Homo sapiens: one gene and its partner. Each later gene encodes a partner of the first gene's protein in a complex. Each region holds a gene or a part of one and is shown in the gene's direction. Other genes may lie near its edges.

Region 1 (7,003 bases):
GTGGGTGCTGACACCAAGTAGGGGCTCAATGTTTGTTGAAGGGATGAATGAGTGGCTCCATTGAGAACTTACTGCAGGAATCCAGGGGAAGGTTGTGAACTAGGATTATGGGAGTGGGGAGAGGGCCGAACGTGGGAAAGGGAGAAGGTTTCTATTAGACAGGGTCTGGGCAGGAAAATGGAACTCAGGCCAGGAAGTTCAGTGGATAGAATTTATGTAGAAAACTAGTTACAAAGGCATAGAAAGGGCAGAAACAAAACAGAACAAAACATGGTGCTGGGGGCCACCCAGAGATTAGCAACATCTGGAAGCTGCTGCCACCCTACGGCTGGAGGGACAAAGGTGGTTTCACCTGCTCCCAGAAGCCAGAGTCCCTGGAGTGAGCTCGGACCATGAAGAAGGGGTGCCACAGGTTGAACTCCCCAGGAAGCTGACTCTGAGATGCAGGCCAGCCTGCAAGAGGATTCTGTGGGAAGAGGGGGAGGAAGGAACAGGATTGGGCAGAGGAAAAAGCTGGGCTGTGATGCAATTTTAGGAAGGCCTAAATCTGGGAGCTCTGAAGCTGGGATGCCTTGGACAGGTGGCCCAAGTTGGGACAAGGGGACCTTTATTCTTCCATGATCAGCAGTCACTGGATGTGGACCCTTGGGAAGGGAGTGTGACCTCCGGCAAAGTGGCTCTTCTCAGTCAAGGCAATTTCCAAAACAGCTCCTGATATGCACTCCCAGCAGCCAGGGAAACAGATCCTCCAGTTGGGCAGCGGGATCTGGGGAGCACATCGCAGCAGCCATGCGGAGTGGCTGTCTCCTCTGGAGCCCCAGAGGAGGTGTGGCCAGCTGCCTGAAGCAAATAGTAGCCTGGGCATTCTCTTCTTCCTCCTGCCTTCTAATCTCCCTCCCGGGCCTCCCACTGGGCAAACTGGGCTGGAAGCCAATGGGCAAGTGAGCCTGGGAAGTAGAGCTGGTGAGGGCCAGCCCCAGGGAGCTGAACAGTGCGGGGTAGGGCCCGGCACTGAGAGCTCACAGGTCTAGGGTGGGCTGTGGGAGAAAGGAAAAAGGCAGATTCAAAGGGGAACCCACGATGAGTGCCTGTGATCCTGGCCCCTGGGTGGGCGGAGCTGGGTGGATGGTGGCATGCCTGTCTCTCAGAAGAGGCAGAGAAGGAGGCACACACCTGGGAGGAAGATGCTCAGGGGCCATGCTGAGTTTGCCATTCAAGTGCTGGCAGCTCAGTGGATCTTACATTCTGGCACAGAATAATCTTCAAAGACAAAAAAAATGTAGGTGGGGCCGGGCGTGGTGGCTCAAGCCTGTAATCCCAGCACTTTGGGAGGCTGAGGTGGGTGGATCACTTAAAGTCAGGAGTTCAAGACCGGCCTGGCCAACATGGTGAAACCTCGTCTCTACTACAAATAAAAAATTACCCAGGCATGGTGGCGGGCGCCTGTAATCCCAGCTACTGGGAGGCTGAGGCAGGAGAATCACTTGAACCCGGGAGGCAGAGGTTGCAGTGGGCCGAGATTGGGTCACTGCACTCTAGCTTAGGCGATGGAGGGAGACTCTGTCTCAAAACAAACAAACAAACAAACAAACAAACAAACTAACTAACTAACTCTTCGGTGGGCTCTCCTCTGGGCACAGGACCAAGTGCAACATGGCTTTCAAGCCCTTCCCAACACTGTCTCAGGAGACCTCTGCAGGCTCAGCTCCCACCACCCTTGTAGTTTCTCTGGCCTGCTAGCCCTGCCCTTCCGCACACCCCTTGTCTGGCCCGGCCTCCCACCATTCATACTCTCCCTTGAGCAACTCCCTCACAGTCCCTGCACATCTCCCAGGTCAAATGCCTTCTAGAGTCCTCCCTAACTCCTGTTTTCCCCTACAAATTGTAATCTCTCCTTCCAGTCGCCATAAATGCTTAGGAGCTTGACCGCACCACCCCTTATGAGCTACTTAACCGCAGCAAGTAACTTCATCTTTCGTTCTTTTTTTAAATTATTATTATTATTATTTTTTATTTTTTGAGACTAAGTCTTGCTTTCTCCCCAAGGCTGGAGTGCAGTGGCACGATCTCGGCTCACTGCAACCTCTGTCTCCCAGGTTCAAGTGATTCTCCCACCTCAGCCTCCCCAGCAGCTGGGATTACAGGCGCGCGCCACCACACCCAGCTAATTTTTGTACTTGTAGTAGAGACGGGGTTTCACCATGTTGGCCAGATTGGTCTTGAACTCCTGACCTCAGGTGATCTGCCCACCTCAGCCTCCCAAAGTGCTGGGATTACAGGCGTGAGCCACCACGCTTGGCCTAACTTCATCCTTCTAAGGCTTCAGTTTCTTCCCTGTGAAATGGGGCAAAAAATAACCCCATAGTGTGGTTGGAAAACTGAAGTAATACATATAAAGTGCTAAGAACAGTGTCCGACACATTGTAGGCCTCGATTCATGTTAGCTATTATTATTATTTTAATTTTCACCTTCTAATTCCCAGCGTTTAGCTCTTGGTAGATGCTTAATTAGTATTTGTTGAATGAATGGAGAATTAATAAGGAAAATGATTTATTCCTGGGGCTCGACCTGGTTTTAGAAAATTAAGTATTTAGCAGAAGGACAAGTAAGGGCTCTCTAATAATAGTTATATTGTTGGGTGCCCAGGGACTCCAAACTGACCTGGTTCACTCAAGAAAGAAAAATGACAGATTCCAAGTTGTTTCACGCGCAACTTTGATGCTCTTCCAAATCACACGGAATGAATGCATGCGCACCACCAGGCAGGGCTGCCCGGGTGCAGGCGGTATCTCTGGCAGTGGCCAGAATGACTTCCACCAGCCTACCCACCTACCCAGGTTGGCACTCAGGCCCTAGACCCTGCGGCGCGTGTGGAGGCTGGGGAGGGAGTAGGAATCCGGCGGCAGCCACGTGGGCCCCTTCCGCCCGCTCCCCACATCCTTTGTTTCCCACCGGCCCTGGCTCAGGAAGCTCTTTCTGCGAGTCACCGCGAAGGGGCGGCCCGGGAGCCTGGAGAAGCTATTTCCGTGCAATCCGGGCGGGCGGCAGGCGCGGGGGGGTTGGGGGGGCGTGGAGGTGGAGGCAGCGCAGAAGGCCCAGTGTTTGCTTTTATTTCCTCCAACAGAAGGTTCTATTTGTGGAAGCGAACAGACGCTGGGGATTAGAGCTGGGAGGGGGCAGGAAAAGGGAAAAAAAAAAGCCACATCCACTACCACGCACAGGTCTTCCCCGGAACTACCGCGTGGGGGTGAATGACTGATTCTGGAATTCATCACCTCCCTATCCCCCTCCTTCCTCCGGCTGCAGCCGGGCCTCGGCGGCGCCCACGGCTCCAACCGGAGCTCCCCAGGCGCTGGGCGGTGGGGGGATCCCCGGGGCGAAAGGCGTCGCCGCGGGGCTGCAGCGAGCGGCGGGTGCAGAGAACCGTGGTGCGCGCTCCCGCCTCGCGCCCGCAGCCCATTGTGCTTACTGTGAATGAGGCGCGCGCACCAATCAGCGGTCGCTTCGCTCCCCGCAGCCCCGTCCCTCCCGCCCACTTCCCCGGGCCCTTACGTCACGGGAACTTTTCCTCCGCCCCCTCCTTCGGCTTCTCCGCTGAGCTGGGGGCCTGCGGGAGGGCGCGCGCGCCGCCTCCTGCCCAGCCCCTCCCAGCCCTGGGGGCGTGTGCGCGCGTCCAGGCCGGCCCGGGACGCACCACCTGCGCCCGAGCGCGCGCTGCCCGGAGCATCCCCAGCCCTAAGTCCACCCCCATTCCCCCCACCTCCTACTCCCTCTCCCCTTCCCCCAGTCTCCTCCCTCCGCTCCGGAGACTGCTCGCTGGGCGGCGGGGCCGGAGTCGTCGCAGCCACCTCATTGCACAACCCGGCTTCCCAACTGTTTACACAGCCCGGCCTGTGAGTGTGTGTGTATACAGCGTGAGTCACCAGGAGGCGGAGGAGGTGGAGGAAAAGGAGAAGGAGGAGTGCACTGGCCGGGATCGGTGCAGCGCTCACACTCACTCACAGTCACTCTCTCTGAGCGCGTCTCGCTCGCTCTCATACACGCCCGGAGCCCAGGAGCGCTCAGGATCCCGAGCGCCGCGAAAAAGTTCCCCCGGCTTTTGCTGGAGACTCATCGCTTTGGGAAGTGCATTTGCTTCGTGGCTCCGCCGAGCCTGCTGAATCCTGTCCTCGCGGCTCGGGACCCCGGGATCGCTGACCGCTGCCGCCGCCGCCTCTGCCTCCCGGACTATCGGCAGCCTCGGCAACAATAGTGGCGGCCGCCCCCAGCGAGGCTCCGGGAGCCCTTGCCTGCGGGGGTCCGGGGACTCGAGCCGGCCTCCGCCTCCCGGACGCACAGCCAGCGTGGTCCCCGCGTGCAACGCGAGCGCCGGGGAGTGGCTCCTGCTTTGCCCCTCGTGGGGGCCGAGCCAAGACCAGTCTGCAAACTCCATCCCGCCGGCTGGAAGAAGTCGCGGAGCCGGCACCAAACCCGCAGCGTCTTCCCGCGCGGATCCCGGGACTTAAAAAGCCGGGGCCACCCCGGCCCAGGACGGGATGCGGGTCGGTCCGGTGCGCTCTGCCATGAGCGGCGCCTCGCAGCCCCGCGGCCCGGCCCTGCTCTTCCCAGCCACCCGAGGCGTCCCGGCCAAACGCCTGCTGGACGCCGACGACGCGGCGGCTGTGGCGGCCAAGTGCCCGCGCCTCTCCGAGTGCTCCAGCCCCCCGGACTACCTCAGCCCCCCCGGCTCGCCCTGCAGCCCGCAGCCCCCGCCTGCCGCTCCGGGGGCCGGCGGAGGCTCCGGGAGCGCGCCGGGGCCCAGCCGCATCGCCGACTACCTGCTGCTGCCCCTAGCCGAGCGCGAGCATGTGTCCCGGGCGCTGTGCATCCACACTGGACGCGAGCTGCGCTGCAAGGTAGGCGCTCCCGGGCCAGGACCCGGCTGGGGTCGGGGGCGCGGGACGGGGTGGTAGGCAAAGGTGCTTGGGGTCCGGCCAACGCTTGGGCTGGGCACAGGGCGGATCAGTAGATTGGGTCAGATAAGACGCCATTTGACCAGGTTCACGTTTTTGTGGATCGAGGGGTTTCCCATGGAGTGATATAATGGGGGCGCCTAGAGGAAGTGCAGTGTTCAGTGGCTTTCTCTATCTGTTCCTTTCCTCAGCGCCCAGTGTAGCGCGTGGCGTTCCATATAAGTTGTGGAATTGAAATGGATTCCAGGGCCATGCCATTCCCCTTCTCTCATTCTCCTCGCTCTCCACCCCCCCTCCCCCGCCAATGTCCTGGAAGGACGCCCTTTAGTGGGTGCCTCCTAGGAGCTTGGAGCAGCTGGCAGCTCTCTTGCCGGGCTTGCACGGCACCCGGGCTCAGTTGTAGGTGGTAAGGGGGCTGGAAGACTGTGTCCGGCTCCTGCCTTGGGGATTCCGAATTGAATCCGCGCTGAGACTAGAACACGCCCTCCCAAGGGAGCAGTCCCAGAGTCATCCACCCGAGGCGGAGGAATCTGCTCGGAGTAGAAATGTTGAAAAGCCCACACCGGCCAGGAACCCTCGCTTCGATTCACTTTATTTTCCAGCCAGCGATTTTCCTTTGAACATAGGGATCCCATCCAGGAGGAGGAGACACAGCTCCTAGAAACAGGATCCGCCGGGTCCTCCTCCTGCGCGGGTAGACGCAGAACGTTCCCACAGTCTACTTTATGCGAGCGTGGCACCCCTGCTTGAGGCACCCCAGAGCACCCTCGGGCCGCTCCTTTTCACCCGAAAGATAGGATCACCCCCCAGTTAAGTCGCTTCTGGGTTTTCCGCAACTCACCTGACACTCCCAACACCCCGACCCCGTCCCGGGGCTCGCTGCTGCCACCTACTGCCCAACCCGAATGAAATTTCAGACGCATGATCAAGCCCAGTTTAATAGGGAGGAAAAAAAAACCTTTTCTTCTCCATGACTGGGGCTAAGAGCTGTTCTGGGACAAGCATGTATGTGTGTGTGGTGGGATGGGATGGGATGGGGTGGGAGGAGGGGGCAGCAGGGGATTTTTCTAGCTGGTGCCAGAGCAGCCAGGCCTCTTAGAGGTGGGGTGAGTCTGGCCATTGTGCAACCCCTTCCAGTTCCTCTGAGCAGATAATAGCTGAATCCAGATGGTGACAGCCCGTGTGTCACCGTTTCCAGTTGAGTCTAGGATATGAGTAACTGGACTGAACAAAAGGCCTTTAAAGAGACCAGCCAGCTTCCTAGAAGAGAGGAGATGCTACTCATTTCTAGGGGTGGGGTCGGGTGTGGGGGGATAAACAAACAAGTGGAAAACCCATTCGCAGGATTCCATACCCTTCCTGTGAGAATTGTAACTCAAGGCTGCTTACACTTGAGTCGGACTGTAGGCAGGTTGCTTAAGGCTGCATTGTCCCAGCCTCCCCCTCCAAGTCATCTGTTCCTTCTGATTAATGACAGCTCTGCATGTTCTCTGGCCCCTGCTTCCCCTTGGAGGCTGCAGAGTCACCACATTCTGTGCCCTTTCTGTGTTGAGCACTTTGGGTCTGCAGGAGGCACATGCACGTCCAGGGACTGCTTTTCAGCTCCTGGACAGGCCAGGGGCTTCCTTCTATCAGCCACTCAACTAGTGTGGCCTGCAAACAGGAAAGGGCCACAGAGGGTGGGGGGTTTGCTTAGCTCTCAGGAGCTGACAGAAGATGGGAACATGTACAGGAGACAGTTCTTTCAAATCATCTGTGTGAAAGCGGGTAACCCTTTGGGTATTTGCAAGTCTAGAGCTTTAGGTGTTACTGGTTTTAAAGGTGTCAGGGGCAGCTGGGGCTGCGTAAGGTAAGGTGGCAGAGGAAAGGAGTAGGTGAATGGAACTTACTCACATCCTAAGCCCACAGGTTGAGAACTTCTGTTCAGCTCCCTCAGGGGTTTGGGAGGCTGCCTTTGCTTTTCTAGCCCCCTAAACGGGCCCCCCTTCTCTCTACAGGTGTTTCCCATTAAACACTACCAGGACAAAATCAGGCCTTACATCCAGCTGCC
Region 2 (7,026 bases), on another chromosome or scaffold:
GTAGCTGGGATTACAGGCTCCTGCCACCACGCCCAGCTAATTTTTGTATTTTTAGTAGAGATGGGGTTTCACCATGTTGGCCAGGCTGCTCTCAAACTCCTGACCTCAGGCGATCCGCCTGCCATGGCCTCCCAAAGTGCTGGGATTACAGGCGTGAGCCACTGCGCCTGGCCTCTTGTTTGTCATCTTAAAGATGCTGTCCTATTGTCTTCTGGCTTGCATTCTTGCTGATGGGAAATTGGCGATCTTTCTCTTTATGTAATGTGTCTTTGTTTCTTTGGCATTTCTACAGATTTTCTCTGTTTCTTGTCTTCAGCAGTGTAACTGTGGTGTGCCTTGATGTGGTGTTGTGCTTCTTTCTGCCAGAAATTGTTAAGCTTCTTAGATTTGTGGGTTTATAGTTTACAAATTTGAAACATTTTAGTCTTAACGTTTTCATATATTTTTTTCTCTTCCTTCTTTGGGACTCCAATTATACATTTATTAGGTTGCATATTGCCCAATAGGTCACTGAGATGCTAATCTCTTTTTCCTCTCATGCTTTTTTCCTGTCTGCTTCAGTTGTAATTTTGGAGGTGTTACCAAATTTTTTGATGTTTTATTCCTCACTTGTCTCATCTGTTGTTATGTCCATCTCCTTACCTGCTTTGTGGTCCAGAAATTGCCTCTCAGTAGAAAACCAGGGTGATTATAGGACTCACTTCATTTGTTTCTTTTCTCTCAAAGATCACAGTCCTGTACTGCCTGTGGTCCAGTGGTATCTTACATATTTTTTTCAGTTTTCCAGTTGTATATGGTAGGAAAACAAATTTAGTCTGTTTACTCTGTTATGGCCAAAAATGGAAGTTTTTATATATATATATATATATATATATTCACGTATCTTATATTTAAATACATTGTATATACTTATACCTATACTAAAATTAATTTACATTTAAAATCAGTTACATCTATCTCTATGAATAAATCCACCAGTTGCTGAGTGAATAACTGTTCATTTCTCAACTTGTCAGGATTTTATTTTATTATATTTTATATATTTATTTATTTATTTATTTTTGAGATGGAGTTTTGCTCTTGTTGGCCAGGCTGTAGTGCAGTGGCATGATCTTGGCTCACCATAGCCTCCACCTCCCGGGTTCAGGCGATTCTCCTGTCTCAGCCTCCCAAGTAGCTGGGATTACAGGCATGTGCCACCACGCCTGGCTAATTTTTTTTGTATTTTTAGTAGAGATGGGGTTTCTCCATGTTGGTCAGGCTGGTCTCAAACTCCCGACCTCAGGTGATCCGCCTGCCTTGGCCTCCCAAAGTGCTGGGATTACAGGTGTGACCCACAGCGCCATCCAGATTTTTAATGTATTGTCTATAATGACCCTTTTTAAGCAAGTCAATAAAGATAAAACTATTTTAGTAGATGCAGGTTTTCTTCACTAGCCTACGTGTGCTACTAAAAATGTTTTGGTATAAGTTAGTGTAGTATCACTGACTTAAGCAAGTTGGTGCATGTTTATATGTCTTCTGTTTTTATAAAAGACTTGCTAATTTTTCTGTTGTCTTTTCTTAGTCTCTTCATAGTCAGAAAAAAATATTGGGTATTTTATTAGCTTAGCCTTGAGGAGAGTTCTGCAGTAAAACTGCCGGTTTCCAAAAAAGAGGGAGAAAATAATAAGAATTACTGACTCACACTTTTATTTTATTTAGCAAGTAAAAAATAACCTGTTGAGCTAGAACTTATTTATAGTAGGCCCTAGCAGACCACAGCTACAACTAGGAATTACCAGTCATCCAAAATACAATCAAGAACCATTAAAAACTTACATTAATAACCTTGTACGTACCACTTCCACATCTCTATGCTAGAAGTAAAATATCTGGTCTTATTTTTCTGTTGCATGCAAAAAAAAAATAATTTATCTTAAGCCAATATCTAGCTATCTGATAGTTTAATTCTAAATAACTTTTTTTGTAATCATACTACCTTTGGGGAGAGAGGATGTACTGAGATATGAAGCCATTATTTTTCTTTCATTAAATTTCAGTCCTAAAAGACCATTCAAACTGGCATTCAATTCGTATGTTGACTTTTTTTTTTTTTAACACATAAAGTATTTATCTGTTTCTGCAGGAAATAGTGTTAAGAGTTAACCCTTGGATAGCATCTAATATGACATCATATATTAATGCCATAGTAATCCTGAGGTTACAGTAAGACAGTGTTTATTCATGTTGGATAGTTATCAGATGTCCTTCTTGGGTTTAGAGTGGTAATTGTACATATTTTAAACTCCTCTTGTGTGGTAATCCAACTAGATTATCTTATTTATATTGGGGCTAATTTTTCATACTGTAAGATAATATACTACAATTTTCCTAGTTTTGCTCCCATCAGAAGTCAGAAGTTTCAATTATGTAATTTATAATCCCTGTAACTGCCAGAAGTAGACTCCCTGCTTATCCCCAAGTGAATCCTCATCTTCACCAGGTCTCTGCATTCCTTCTCTATATTAAAAGGTGACTAGACCCAAAATGGCAGAAGGAGATGGAGCTTTCGGCTTTAAATTTTTCATTGTCCTGTCATTATTTGTTCTCATAGCAAAGGGAGCAGTTCATGATGGCTGCAGCATTTAGTGGTGGTGGCTCTTGGCAGTAGCTTTCTTGCAGACCAGAGTCTGTCCCCTCCTTGAATGGCAACTAGGTTGATCAGTGAGATTTTCAACTGCTTTTCTGGATGATGTTTACAGGAGAATTATTTGTGGGTCACCAGTGGCAGTTCTGATACCATACAACTTGTTTAAAATTCCTGCTAGAAAGAAATCCATATTGCACCACACAGTGCCTCTTTCTGCTGTTTTCTGAGGCCAGCATAGAAATGCTGTCTCTTAACCAACTCAGGGTAAGTTATTATATTCCTAAAGGACATCCAGAACCTACTCCAACCACTTTCTACATTCAGGTCACTAAAAGAGTAAATAAATCCCAAATTCATCTTCCTTTCCCCTCACCCCAGCCCCCCACCCCGAATATGGAAGTGTTGATTCTGTATACCTCAAGTCCCAGAAATAGCCCATAATATTCCAAAGTTAATTCTAATAGTGAGTATTGTATTACCCATGTTCATTTTTTTTTTTTTTTTTTTTTTTTGAGACGGAGCCTTGCTGGAGTCTCTCCAGCCAGGCTGGAGTGCAGTGGTGCAATCTTTGCTCACTGCAACCTGTGCCTCCCAGGTTCAAGCACTTCCCCTGCCTCAGCCTCCTGCCTAGCTGGGACTACGGGCACACGCCACCACGCCAAGCTAATTTTTTGTATTTTAGTAGAGACAGGATTACACCATATTAGCCAGGATGGTCTCGATCTTCTGACCTCATGATCTGCCCACCTCTGCCTCCCAAAGTGCTGGGATTACAGGTGTGAGCCACTGCGCCCAGCCCCCATGTTACTATTTTTAAGAACATTTGCTAATTTAAGGAAAATCCTCAGCTAGGAAAAGATCAACAATTCCCATGCCCACATGTCTTTATTTCTTCTTGATACACCTATAATCTTTGATGCTGCTGACTAATTCCAAAGAGTATTCTGATTCCATTAAAAATTCTGGAATAGTGGAAGACATTATTATTTTCTTGTATGCCATTAGTAACAAGATGCACATTTCTGAAGAGCAGCTTTATTAGAAATGAAAGGGAAAATTTAAAAATGGAAATGTATGAGTTTGTAAAGCGCAACTTGCATATGTCAAAGAAACTAAAGTTTAACTCAGCTTAGCTGAAGTAACTTTTCTAACATACAAGCCAAGAGTTTTCTTTGTTCTTATTATTGCTTTGTCATGAAGCCTGAAGGATATTTAGGTAGATCCTATCCTACATTCAAATTAGACCACTTTATCTGTTTCTCATAGCTGTTATTTGGACTTCGTTTTTCTCTCTGCCACCTGGCCTGACCTCTATGACATTTTAAGTCTGTTTACCACCTCTTAGCTGCCTACCATGGAAAGCAAAAGACTCCAACACATCCAAGTTCCAGAGCCCTTTAGATGCCCAGTTTCCTACAGGAGGCATGTCTCCATTCTTCCTACTTTCTGAGATTCTCTCTAGTAAACTCAGTCATGTCCATTTCTTTTCCCACTCTTCCTACTTTCCAGAGAAATGTTTTTTCCTTGGCTTAGAATAGAAAAATACTTCACCACATATATTCTCATCCAAGTAATTACCAAGGTTATTAAAAATGCATGTGCTGAATGATAGAATAATTAAAAAGAAAGATAGTCCTTTTTCCCAAATGAATATTCACATTTTCTTGTTTTCCTAATACCAAATGTCCATCCATAGAGATTTGTGCCAAGGATGTTGGCAGGTTTTACATCAATTACTGGTATTTTATGAGAGAAAATGAATGAAGAAGGAGTGTGCTGGGAAAGCAATTATTCACTTTGTTTTTCTCAACTTACTCTTTTTTTCATTTTATTTCAGTCTTTGTTTCTTTTGGCTTTTCTTCCATTGACAATCTTTTTCCCTTTTATTTTTGTTTACATTCAAAAGTGTCCTACTCTGCTTCTAACTTTATTCTTTTATTAAAACTTACACTTCAAAATATGGGATCTTAAGTTTAAAATACAGTTAAAAACATGTTAAAATTGTCTCTTCGACTGGGCACAGTGGCTCACGCCTGTAATCCCAGCACTTTGGGAGGCCGAGGTGGGCAGATCACCTGAGGTTGGGAGTTCGAGACCAGCCTGACCAACATGGAGAATCCCCGTCTCTACTAAAAATACAAAAATTACCTGGGCTGGTGGCGCATGCCTGTAATCCCAGCTACTCGGGAGGCTGAGGCAGGAGAATCGCTTGAACCCAGGAAGTGGAGGTTGTGGTGAGCCAAGATCGCGCCATTGCACTCCAGCCTGGGCAACAGAGCAAGACTCCGTCTCAAAAAAAAAAAAAAAAAATTGTATCTTCATATTAGATTCAATTGTCTTAGGAATTGAAGTGAAGAAAGAAGGATGAAGAGGAAATTATCTCTTGGATTGCTCTCCAGGAAATCCTTCTCTATACTTTAAAAGCTCTTGTTCTTTTCTAGGAGTCCAATGTGCTGATTGCTGCTAACAGTCAGGGTACAATTAAGGTAAGCTATTTACTATATCTCCATTTTAAACTCAGGCCCATTTTTAGACTGAAACAGGATTATAGAAATACACCATTGTACTGAGCCTTAGAGATCATCCCAAATCATGGGTCTGTGTCTCCTTACAAATGGCTTGATTTAAGGGAAAAGAATAGGTAGCTTGCATCTGTGGAGAAGATGATAGTGCTTATTGAGGTTGTATGGATGCTGGATGGATTAATAGATGGTCAGTTTGAAAAACAGATAAAGACTAGTGAACATTCACTGTGGGCTAAGCACAGTTTAGCTTCTGTTATGCCAGTACAACTCTCCCACAGGGCTTTCAGTAGATAGAGCCCAAAATATAGCAGGAGATGCAAGATATAGCAGAAGATGCTTAGACATCACCAGATTTAAACATATCTTGGTCATATTTTATTCTCTTCCTCATGGTTCTCTTTCTTCTGTCCCCTAAGAAGTAGGTTTTTCCTCAGTTGTCAAAGGGGAGAAAAAGTTATTTTAGTGTTCAGTTGAAAATTGATAGATGTGATTCAAGGAAGCCTAGCCATAAAAAAAGGAAAGAAAATTGATTGATGCATATATAGCACTTGTACATGATACATTGGATAAATAAATCCTGAGATAAGCAGTGAACTTTCTAAACAAAACACCCTTTTGGTGGAGTACGTGTTTCTGAGAGTACCTGTTTTTTCCACATATTCTCTGCTGATTTGGTAGAAATATTGAAAGTTTTTTAACATAACGTGTGTGTTTCTCCTGCCACTTAGCATTAATTTTGCCATAGCTTCCTTAGACTCATCATAAGTGGAGAATAATCCATCAGCCAAGGCAGCAAATCCTAGCCTAAACATTCTACAGAGGTGAAATGAGCAAACTTAACGCAGAAGAACTGCACTAATTTACATGGTAGTCTCCTTTTTTAGGCAGCCAGTTTCTCTGTTTGAAAAGCCTCTTTAGAGAACCACTGAGAGCTTAAATGAAAACGAGGTTTTTTAACTGATCAGTGTTTGTTATGTTCTGGAAGCCTCAAGCAAGATGGTAGAAGGTCTTGGAATATCTGATTTAAGTGGCTTTCTATACTCTCTCAGTCTCTCTCTTACTCTCATGTCAAGTCATGAATTGAAAAGCTACACCTTACTCTTCAAAAAGTTTATCCTTTACACCAATTGGGATTGCCAGCATACCTACAAGAGCTCAAAACTACATAGGTTCTCATAGGATCCCACTGACAAATCTAAGATTTTGTTCAGCATCATTGACTTCTTATGTTAAGTAGCCTAGTTACCTAATATAAAGACAAAAGCATTATGGAAGCACATATATTAGTCAAGCCTTAGCTGAGCAGCAGGGGAAAGGTTGCACGTTTAAATATTTGCTACTTAGTGAGTGTTGTAGTGTCCATCTAATGTAATTCTTTTTGACAGTGTCTCATAACTATCCTCCTGTTCCGTGATCTTTCTTAGCCATTTGCTTCCTCTTAGTTTTAGCAATATCACAACTTACTTTTTTATGACAGTATACTACTTTAATTCTAAAAATACAAAGTATCTGGACGCTAGATGATTGGCTAGAAATGGATGAAGCAGCAGGAAAGAGCAAGACTTTAGGTCCTGTAACCTTGATCATTATAAACAGTGTTTATTGATGAAAGAAGAAAACAGATTAAAATCCTAAACAAGGATACTTAAAACTTTCATAAGAATGTGGAAAGATTCCAACATATATTCCAAAAATGTATTTGTGCTATGCATTAGCCAATTTATTTTTCCATGTGTTTTATGTAGTTTACCTTGAAGGCTTCCAAGTTAACTGTGGAGATAGCTCATCTGAAAGAGTTCATGCAGCTGTTAAGCTGCAGGTCAAAAAGGATTAATGTCCAATCCATTCAAATTCTTTGGCATTTTCCCA

Evidence for each region. Proteins that work in one complex are often made in the same cells at the same time.
Region 2: the proteins of TRIB1 (region 1) and COP1 are in contact, whole or in part, in a crystal structure (PDB 5IGQ), measured with the Homo sapiens proteins. Residues at the interface, in NP_079471.1 of Homo sapiens: Asp355, Gln356, Ile357, Val358, Pro359, Glu360, Tyr361; in NP_071902.2 of Homo sapiens: Ile423, Ser425, Val441, Lys472, Tyr491, Trp517, Asp534, Ala556, Asn557, Cys559, Ala576, Asp577, His578, Lys600, Ala601, Ser603, Thr618, Lys643, Asn644, Phe645, Phe699.

What each region holds. Positions count from the first base shown.
Region 1 is NC_000008.11:125,426,367-125,433,369, forward strand, and holds the start of TRIB1 (tribbles homolog 1), read left to right. Parts: upstream 1-3,991; 5' UTR 3,992-4,536; coding exon 4,537-4,896; intron 4,897-5,842; exon of another isoform or gene 5,843-5,958; intron 5,959-6,950; coding exon 6,951-7,003. UniProt on the Homo sapiens protein: Adapter protein involved in protein degradation by interacting with COP1 ubiquitin ligase. The COP1-binding motif is masked by autoinhibitory interactions with the protein kinase domain.
Region 2 is NC_000001.11:175,945,287-175,952,312, reverse strand, and holds part of COP1 (E3 ubiquitin-protein ligase COP1), read left to right. Parts: intron 1-5,073; coding exon 5,074-5,118; intron 5,119-7,026. UniProt on the Homo sapiens protein: E3 ubiquitin-protein ligase that mediates ubiquitination and subsequent proteasomal degradation of target proteins.